2 linked regions of the Homo sapiens genome follow. The protein of the gene in region 1 interacts with the protein of each later gene in a pairwise test. Each region holds a gene or a part of one and is shown on either strand. Other genes may lie near its edges.

Region 1 (3,826 bases):
TATTGAACTCTCATTTTGGGGGCTTGGGCACATTAACAGATTAATCCATCTGTATAGGGCTTTTGCTGTTGGATAGAATTTAAATTGTCTACATAAATATTTGTTTTAGGACCCTTAGATTTTATCTGAATACACAGATTAGGCTTTAAAAACAGATATATATGTCATTTTTGGCTTAAGGAGTTTGGCTAAGTTAGCTTTTCAACTGGCACTGTATGGCAGCATTTTTTGGTATGGTTAGCATGGCACATGGCGAAACATAAAGCATTTTACTGTACAGGTAAGGAATGTGCCATGTTGTTTTACCTATCTCTCTTTCTCTCTCACTCCCATGCACACATCCTGTGTGTATTCAGAGACCTTCAGAAACATTCATATTCATTTTCATGAGTCAGCAAAAGCCCTACGCTTGATTCCAACAGAATATTTCCTTTACATACTTTCTTCTCTTAATTTTTACAAAATTTGTATGGTAGGTGTAAAAGAAAATCATAGTAACTGTACCATATTATTAACCCCTAAATCAAACTTTTTTTGTCTTGTGTATCTTGATTTTTCTGTGTGCTTTATAGTGAAGCAGCCGACACGAGTCGTTGTTCATAAAACAGCTTTTGAAAGTTGAGAGCACACCCCTGGAGAACCGACTGTGCTTGCTTACGTTTGGTTCATGACTTAAAAATCGAGTACAGGTGATGAAATCTTGGCAGTGTTAACAAAAAAGTAGTGTGTATTGTGCTATTTTTTTTTACTCTAGAAACTTAACCATTTGTAGAGAAAAAGGAAACAAATTTTCACACATTGAAGTTCATTCTGACATAAAATTAATGATAAATAATCATAGAAATCAAGCTTTGTATTTTAGCGAACATAAGTACTTTCAACAAACTCAGGTGGTGTATCAGGGAGACATTTTCTGGGTGTTTTTGTGTGTTTTCTGTCTTAGAAAAGAATGTGTTCTAATGCAAGGATGTTTCTCTGCAGGAGTTATTCCTGATGAAGCTAAAGCTTTGTCTCTGTTGGCACCAGCTAATGCAGTGGCAGGTCTTCTGCCTGGTGGTGGACTCCTGCCTACTCCTAACCCACTTACCCAGGTACTAGTTCTATTGAATTCTTAAAGGGTGGGGAAAAAAACAGAATTGTGCATAAAGCTAAACATATTTGAACTTTGTAAGTACTCATAAGATTCTAGTTCAGATAGCATTATCACATGTCTATATCAAAATCACAAATAGTATAGAAGATCTCTTAGACTTTTGTATTTTAAGAACATTCTGAAAAATCATAAAATATCTGTTCTGTCACTTTTACCATTGGCTCTCAAAATAACCCATGAGTAGTTTTGGAACAGTCTCCTGAGGCATGAACACTTCTCTGAACACACTGTTAAAAATATATTCATTTGGACCAGGAAAGAAAACTGAAGTTAAAATTTCACAAGTGAGCCCTTCATTTTTTTTTCCTTCCCCTTTATCTTTTCCTGTTATTTGGGGGGTTTTGAATTACATAGGTGGCTTGAAAACAAAGGCAATTCTTGATGGAGATGTTTGATATGGGAATGTGAAAGAAAATTGGTTGCAATAGTGTTTCTAACACTGACAGTGCTGTACGAAGCTTATTTTAGAACTAAAAGGCACTTTAAATACTGTGTATTCTAATTACTGAGATTGTAACTGGTCAGTAGTTTCAAAGATTGTAGTGAATGAGCCTCAACTGGAAATTTATAAAAGCATTCTTTCTAGTGTATCATTTTGCCTGTCTAAATAATTGACTAATTGACTCTTAACTGTGAAGTGCACTATAGAATGAAAGATTAGGAGTTCCTAAGCTTTTTAGGTGTGACTTTTATCACTTAACTCCTAGGTTATTTCTTTTAACCTATAAAATGAGGATCTGAGTAATTTTCTTTATTCTTTGTTCTGTTTTGTTTTGTTTTTTTTTGTTTGTTTTTTGTTTTGTTTGTTTTTGTTTTTTTGAGATGGACAGAGTCTCGCCCTGTCACCCAGGCCGGAGTGCAATAGCACAGTCTCGGCTCACCGCAGTCTCCACCTCCCTGGTTCAAGCGATTCTGCCCCAGCCTCCCGAATAGCTAGGACTACAGGCATGCCACCATGCCTGACTAATTTTTGTATTTTTAGTAGGGATGGGGTTTCACCATGTTGGCCAGGCTGGTCTTGAACTCTTGGCCTCAAGTGATCTGCCCACCTTGGCCTCCCAAAGTGCTGGGATTACAGGCGTGAGCCACCGCGCCCAGTCCAGATCTGGGTAATTTTCTAAATTCCTTTAATGTATAAAGCTATGCAATAGCTATGTTGGACAGTAAGTTAAAATAGTATTAACACAGCATTTTGCCTGTTACGAATAAACAGTTAAATTATAGAAAGTTTGATAGTTTGTGTTTACTAAATAAATTGAAACAAGGAGAACTTGTAGCACAGGTGGAGAAAGTGAGGCTGTTTCAAAAGCTACAGATGGTTTTAAAGTAGCCTCACTTTCATGGTTTGTGTCTATTACATTATGGATTAATCAGAATTGGTGTCAAGCAGGTGGCAGAACCCTGCAGTGATTTGAACAGGGAACATTTAAGGAATTACTAACTAGTTATAGGAGATTACTAGGGGAACTCTAATGAATACAGGAATCACAAGTATAAGAAACAACCACTACCTCTGAGGCTGAAGCAGAAGGAACACCCATTTAGTTCAGGGGACTCCTCTTTCCCCATCTATGCTGAAACTTAGATTTGTTTTTGGAAGGGTGACTAGTAAATAAGTTCTCTTGGGTGCCCTGGGGAGCTGCATAAGGAGTTGGTATTAAAACTTACTGAGAGGCGAGGGCTACTGGGTGTTTGACATGGTGCTGCAGGAATAATCAGAAAGGGGACACAGCAACCAGGAAGAGCCCCTTTCTTAGTCAGTGTCCTTCCAGCACTCTTTCCAAATGAAGTCTTATATCATGGCAACTGTCAAAGGAGAAATGCTTTGTAAAGGTCCTGCCTCCGGTAGCACAAAACAGCAGGGCAAAGAATAGTAGATTTGGATCCTGAGAAGCAATAAATAATTAAAATCAGCACAAGAATATGTTGAAATATTTTGTCTTTTTTTCTTAATCTAGGATTTAGGGGGGAAATGTGTTGTAATGGGTGGAACATGGGTGTCATATAGAGCAAGACTCCTATTTCTGTTAATAGATTGTTATTGGACCACAGCCATTTGTTTAGGTATCGTCTCTGGCTGCTTTCAAGCTATGATGGCAGTAGTTATATGGTTTGTGTACAACTGAGGAGTTGTACGGAGACCATGTAGCCTGAAAACTCAAGTTGTTATCTGACCCTTTACATTAAAAAAGTATTAACCCCTGGTATAAGGAACTGAAATGAAGTTTTAAATAAATAAAATTTGCCATTTCACAGATTGGCGCTGTTCCACTGGCTGCTTTGGGGGCTCCTACTCTTGATCCTGCCCTTGCTGCACTTGGGCTTCCTGGAGCAAACTTGAACTCTCAGGTATACCTTAGTAACTTCAAATTTTTCACCCATTTTTACAGAAGATCTGTTTCATTAACTGTTGGTTTGCATTTCAAGAGCAGAAGCTAATGGCTATGTTGTAGTAATTTTTTTTCTTGTTTAAACTTGTCAGAGCTTTAAACAGTCACTGAATGACTAACTCCTTTATCCATTAATGGATTTCTTTTATATAGTTCAAAATAGAAAATAGATTCACAAGAAGCCAGTACATTATCAGTGTGTCATAGAGTCAGAGTAAATAGTCATGAAAAGATAAGAATGTGGTTTATAATTTTTCTATCATGGAAATTTTTCTTTTATTTT
Region 2 (3,826 bases), on another chromosome or scaffold:
TGTGGTATGCAGCAATTTAGTGGCATTTCAGGCAAATCTTTTAAGTTTCTTCAATCCTGGGAAAAATTAGATGTGAAGACATAACTTACTTTTTGCTTCCTCATCTCCTTTATCCCTGCTGTACTGAAAGTATAGCTTATTGAACTCCACCTTTTAATGTAGATGATTTTCTAGTTATCATATCCATTCTTCTTCATTTCACCTAAGGAGGAATACTCAGCCCTAACGTTTACTGAGCACTTGGTATGTTCCAACATCCTTGCTAGGTGCTTTGCAGGGACTGCTTCATTTAATCTACAATGAAGTTTTGAGGTGGGCACTCCACTCTCGTCATCCCCATTTACCAGGTGGGGACTCTGAGGCTCAGTCATATGACCGTGTTAACTCATGGTGGACCCTGATTAGAGCCAATGGAATGTGAACCCAGAGCTTGTGATTGGAACTGCATGTCATAGGAATCTAAGTAACTCTAAGACATTTACACAAATTTAGGATAGATTTTTCTGCTTAGACTGATTTGCTTATCTAGGAGAACACTGGATTAAGCCTGTTTTCTGAAGTGGTATCTGTGGATTACTTATTCATTGTTATGAAGATACTGACTTTGAAGAAAGACTACCCAGGCCTAGTTTCCTGGGTAAGTAAGTCAGTCCCTTCCCTGACAAATATCAGTTTTATTTCTACTCCATGCCCAGCCTTGTGCTGGAGACCATACCAAACACAGAAGAAACAATATGTAAACTCCATTTTTAAAATTAACACAATAATCTTTACTAGAAAAGAGGATAAAAATGAAAGACAATATAATTATTAAGTAGTGTAGTATAACCTATACATGCTTTGGGAGTTCAGGTAGAAAAAAATGGTATCTAGAGCAGTGAGGGAAGGATGTTTCTGATCTGCCTTTTTTTCAAAAGAGGATAGATTTCATATTCCAGTAATCAAGTGTTGGAGCTGCCTTCAGAACTTAGAGGGAACAGGCTGGGTAGTACTTACTAGCATGAGAGTAAGCAACAAACATTTAGTGCAAATGTCAGGAAAATATTCTCAATGGGGAGGAAAAAATATATAAATTTTCAAGAGATGTGGAAAGGTAGAAAACTCCAGAATTTTGGTCTTTTTAGAGATTTAAAAGAGATTTAGTCTTTTTAGAGACTTAAAAAAAACTTTTCACTTTGAAATAATTCCAGATGCATAAAAGTTTGCAAAACAATGTACAAAAAGTTTCCAAAACATGTGAGTCTTTTACAATTGTAAAAAAAAACATATAATGCAAATAACTCTTTTAAATTATCTCTTGGCACCTCTTGTAATCCTTAATCCAAATGACTTCTGTTGATGGGAGAAAGCACCATTGCCAGTTTCTTGATAAAAGGGACCAAATAACTAGAACCATGTCTTCTTAGGAAAAGCAAGAAGTCTTGGCAGATGTGCATCTGGCATATGGCTCCTGAGACACTGACAGGTCCTGAGCTACTCAATTCTCCCCAGCCGGGTTTGTATTGCACCTGAGGTTACCAGCATCTGCTCAGCCTTGGCACAGAAGTCTTGCCTGTTCCTCCTTGGGCTCTGCCTCCTAAACACCTACCTTGTTATAATCACTCATGAGTTCAACCAAGTTAGTCCAGCGCTGCCTTGCTACTCACAGTGAAGTCCTCTGACCTGCGGCATCAGCACCACGTGGGAGCTTGTTAGAAATGTGGAATGTCTGGCCAGACCTCAGACCTACTGCAGCAGACTGCATTGTAACAGGATCCCCGGGTGATTCATATGCACATTACAGTTTGGGAGGCACTGCTCTAAAGAAAAAGCAAAAACAAATGAAAAAGCAAAAATGAAAAAAATGAACAAACAAGAAATCTTGCACTATTTTCCGCAGTGCTTTACTACTTCCTTATATTTGTATCTAGTTGCTAAAGCGTAAGTCCACAAAAGATCGACATTATATCAAAAAGATGTTGGTTTAACTCAGGAAGCTGCAATATTTCACCATTTGTGCTATGCAATCTTTCAATGAGTTAGTTCTCCACTGTAAGAAAAATGCTTACTTCTTGGTTTTATGCATAACAATGGTACAAACAGACTACCATTAAACAGAAATTGTGGCTCTTTTCTCCTGCAAAATTCTTGACTAATGCTACTCAACCTATGATTATGAAAGGGAATCCTGTTTTCATGACTTGAATACAAGTCTTTAGAAAAAGAGATGAGAGATTTAGCTATCCATGTTCTAGCTCTAACACTTAAATAACCTCTGCCATGTTGGGCAGTAGAAAAAAGTAATTAATATAAAACAGTAGTGTTACTAATTAGTGACATTAGTAAGCATTTACTAATGCTTACTAATTGCCAGGCACTACTGATAAAATAGCAATAATAACAATTATTATTTATTGACCATTTTTACTATTTATACAGCATGCTGCTAAGTATTTGTGTTTTGTATGATCCTCCTCTATAATCCTGAAAGTGTTGATATTATTACCTGCATTTTATAGTTGAGGAAACTGATTGTGAGGTTAAGAAATTTGCTCATGGCCATACACGCAGCAAGCAGTTCTACGTTCACCCATAGTATGTAACTCCAGGGTTCTTGATCACTGCTAAACACGTAACCTCTTAGGACTCAGTTCATTGAAATAAATGAGAAGATTGATGAATTTTTTCCAACTCCAAAATTCACTGGAATTGCACAATCCCTCTTTATATAAGAATGCTAGCAAGCTGTTTAGCATTATACTGAGAAATTGGAACCTTACATTTCGGGTAATAAAACAAATGAAACTCCACCATGAAAATCACAATCAGACATAGTCCAAGAAGTTGCTTGCTGGATTTGAGAGATCTAAGGCAGCTGGTATCTTTTAGTTCAATTTTAAAGGGGCATTATTGCAACTATCCAGTCCCCTCTCATTGTTCTTGTAATATCTCTTTCTATTTATGGTGCCTCTCAGTTTTGTTGAGAATTCCTTTAGAGCCAGAGCCAAGTCTAAACTCTAGATTATGTCTGACATGCTTCACAGGCTAAGAGTCTGTAATGTAATTCTTTAAAATGCTAGTCTCTTCAGAGGTTTCATTGGCAGCATTCATTGGATTAGAGTTGACGTTTTTAATCTCGTGGCCCTTCTTTGCATTTGACTTGGAAAACAATCTCTTATTCCATGGCCTCTATTACGACCATTCTTGGAAAGCAAAGAGTACTCTACATTATTCCTCCAGCTTATTCTTTTTTTGTTTTGAGGTTCGAAGTAAAACACAATCCTTATTTATTTATTCAGTTATTTATGAGTACTTACCATGCTTCTGGCTCAGGAGTACATCCTAAGGCCAAGTGTGATCATTTGTTGAATTTCATGGTAAAATACAGGATTTGAGGCATAGCATTTGTACACAGGCTATGGCCACTTTTATGGTAAGGCAGTGTATTGAATATTACCTTTGATCTTCAGGAAGATGTTCTGACAGAAGTATGATTGACTAGAAAGTGTAGATTGTTAGTATTTCAAAGGTTTCAGAGACTAGAATTGGCATTTTCTTAGTTAGATTCCTAGACCTAAGAGTCGGCAGGTTTTAATGTATTTCCTTGATGCCTAGGAGAAGCAAGACCTTTCTGTCCATTGTTGACAATGCCATTTCAGTACTGTATGGTGAGGGATTTGTTTCCACTGAGAAGGAAATGCATAAAATAATCTATGAAGCATTCCTTATTTCTTAACTGCTATGGTATACCAGAGTAAAACATCTTCTAGTCTTTCTCTTTTTCAGGAGATAGTAGCGAGTTACTCCTCAAGGAAGGGTAAAACAATATACTCTTTAAAATTATAAT

The links.
Region 2: the proteins of SRSF11 (region 1) and ETS1 interact in a two-hybrid assay, tested with the Homo sapiens proteins (one large-scale study listed by BioGRID and IntAct).

Annotation. Positions count from the first base shown.
Region 1 is NC_000001.11:70,231,287-70,235,112, forward strand, and holds part of SRSF11 (serine/arginine-rich splicing factor 11), read left to right. Parts: exon of another isoform or gene 1-824; coding exon of another isoform or gene 825-981; coding exon 982-1,091; intron 1,092-3,409; coding exon 3,410-3,502; intron 3,503-3,826. UniProt on the Homo sapiens protein: May function in pre-mRNA splicing.
Region 2 is NC_000011.10:128,580,970-128,584,795, reverse strand, and holds part of ETS1 (protein C-ets-1), read left to right. Parts: exon of another isoform or gene 1-1,799; intron 1,800-3,826. UniProt on the Homo sapiens protein: Transcription factor. Directly controls the expression of cytokine and chemokine genes in a wide variety of different cellular contexts. May control the differentiation, survival and proliferation of lymphoid cells.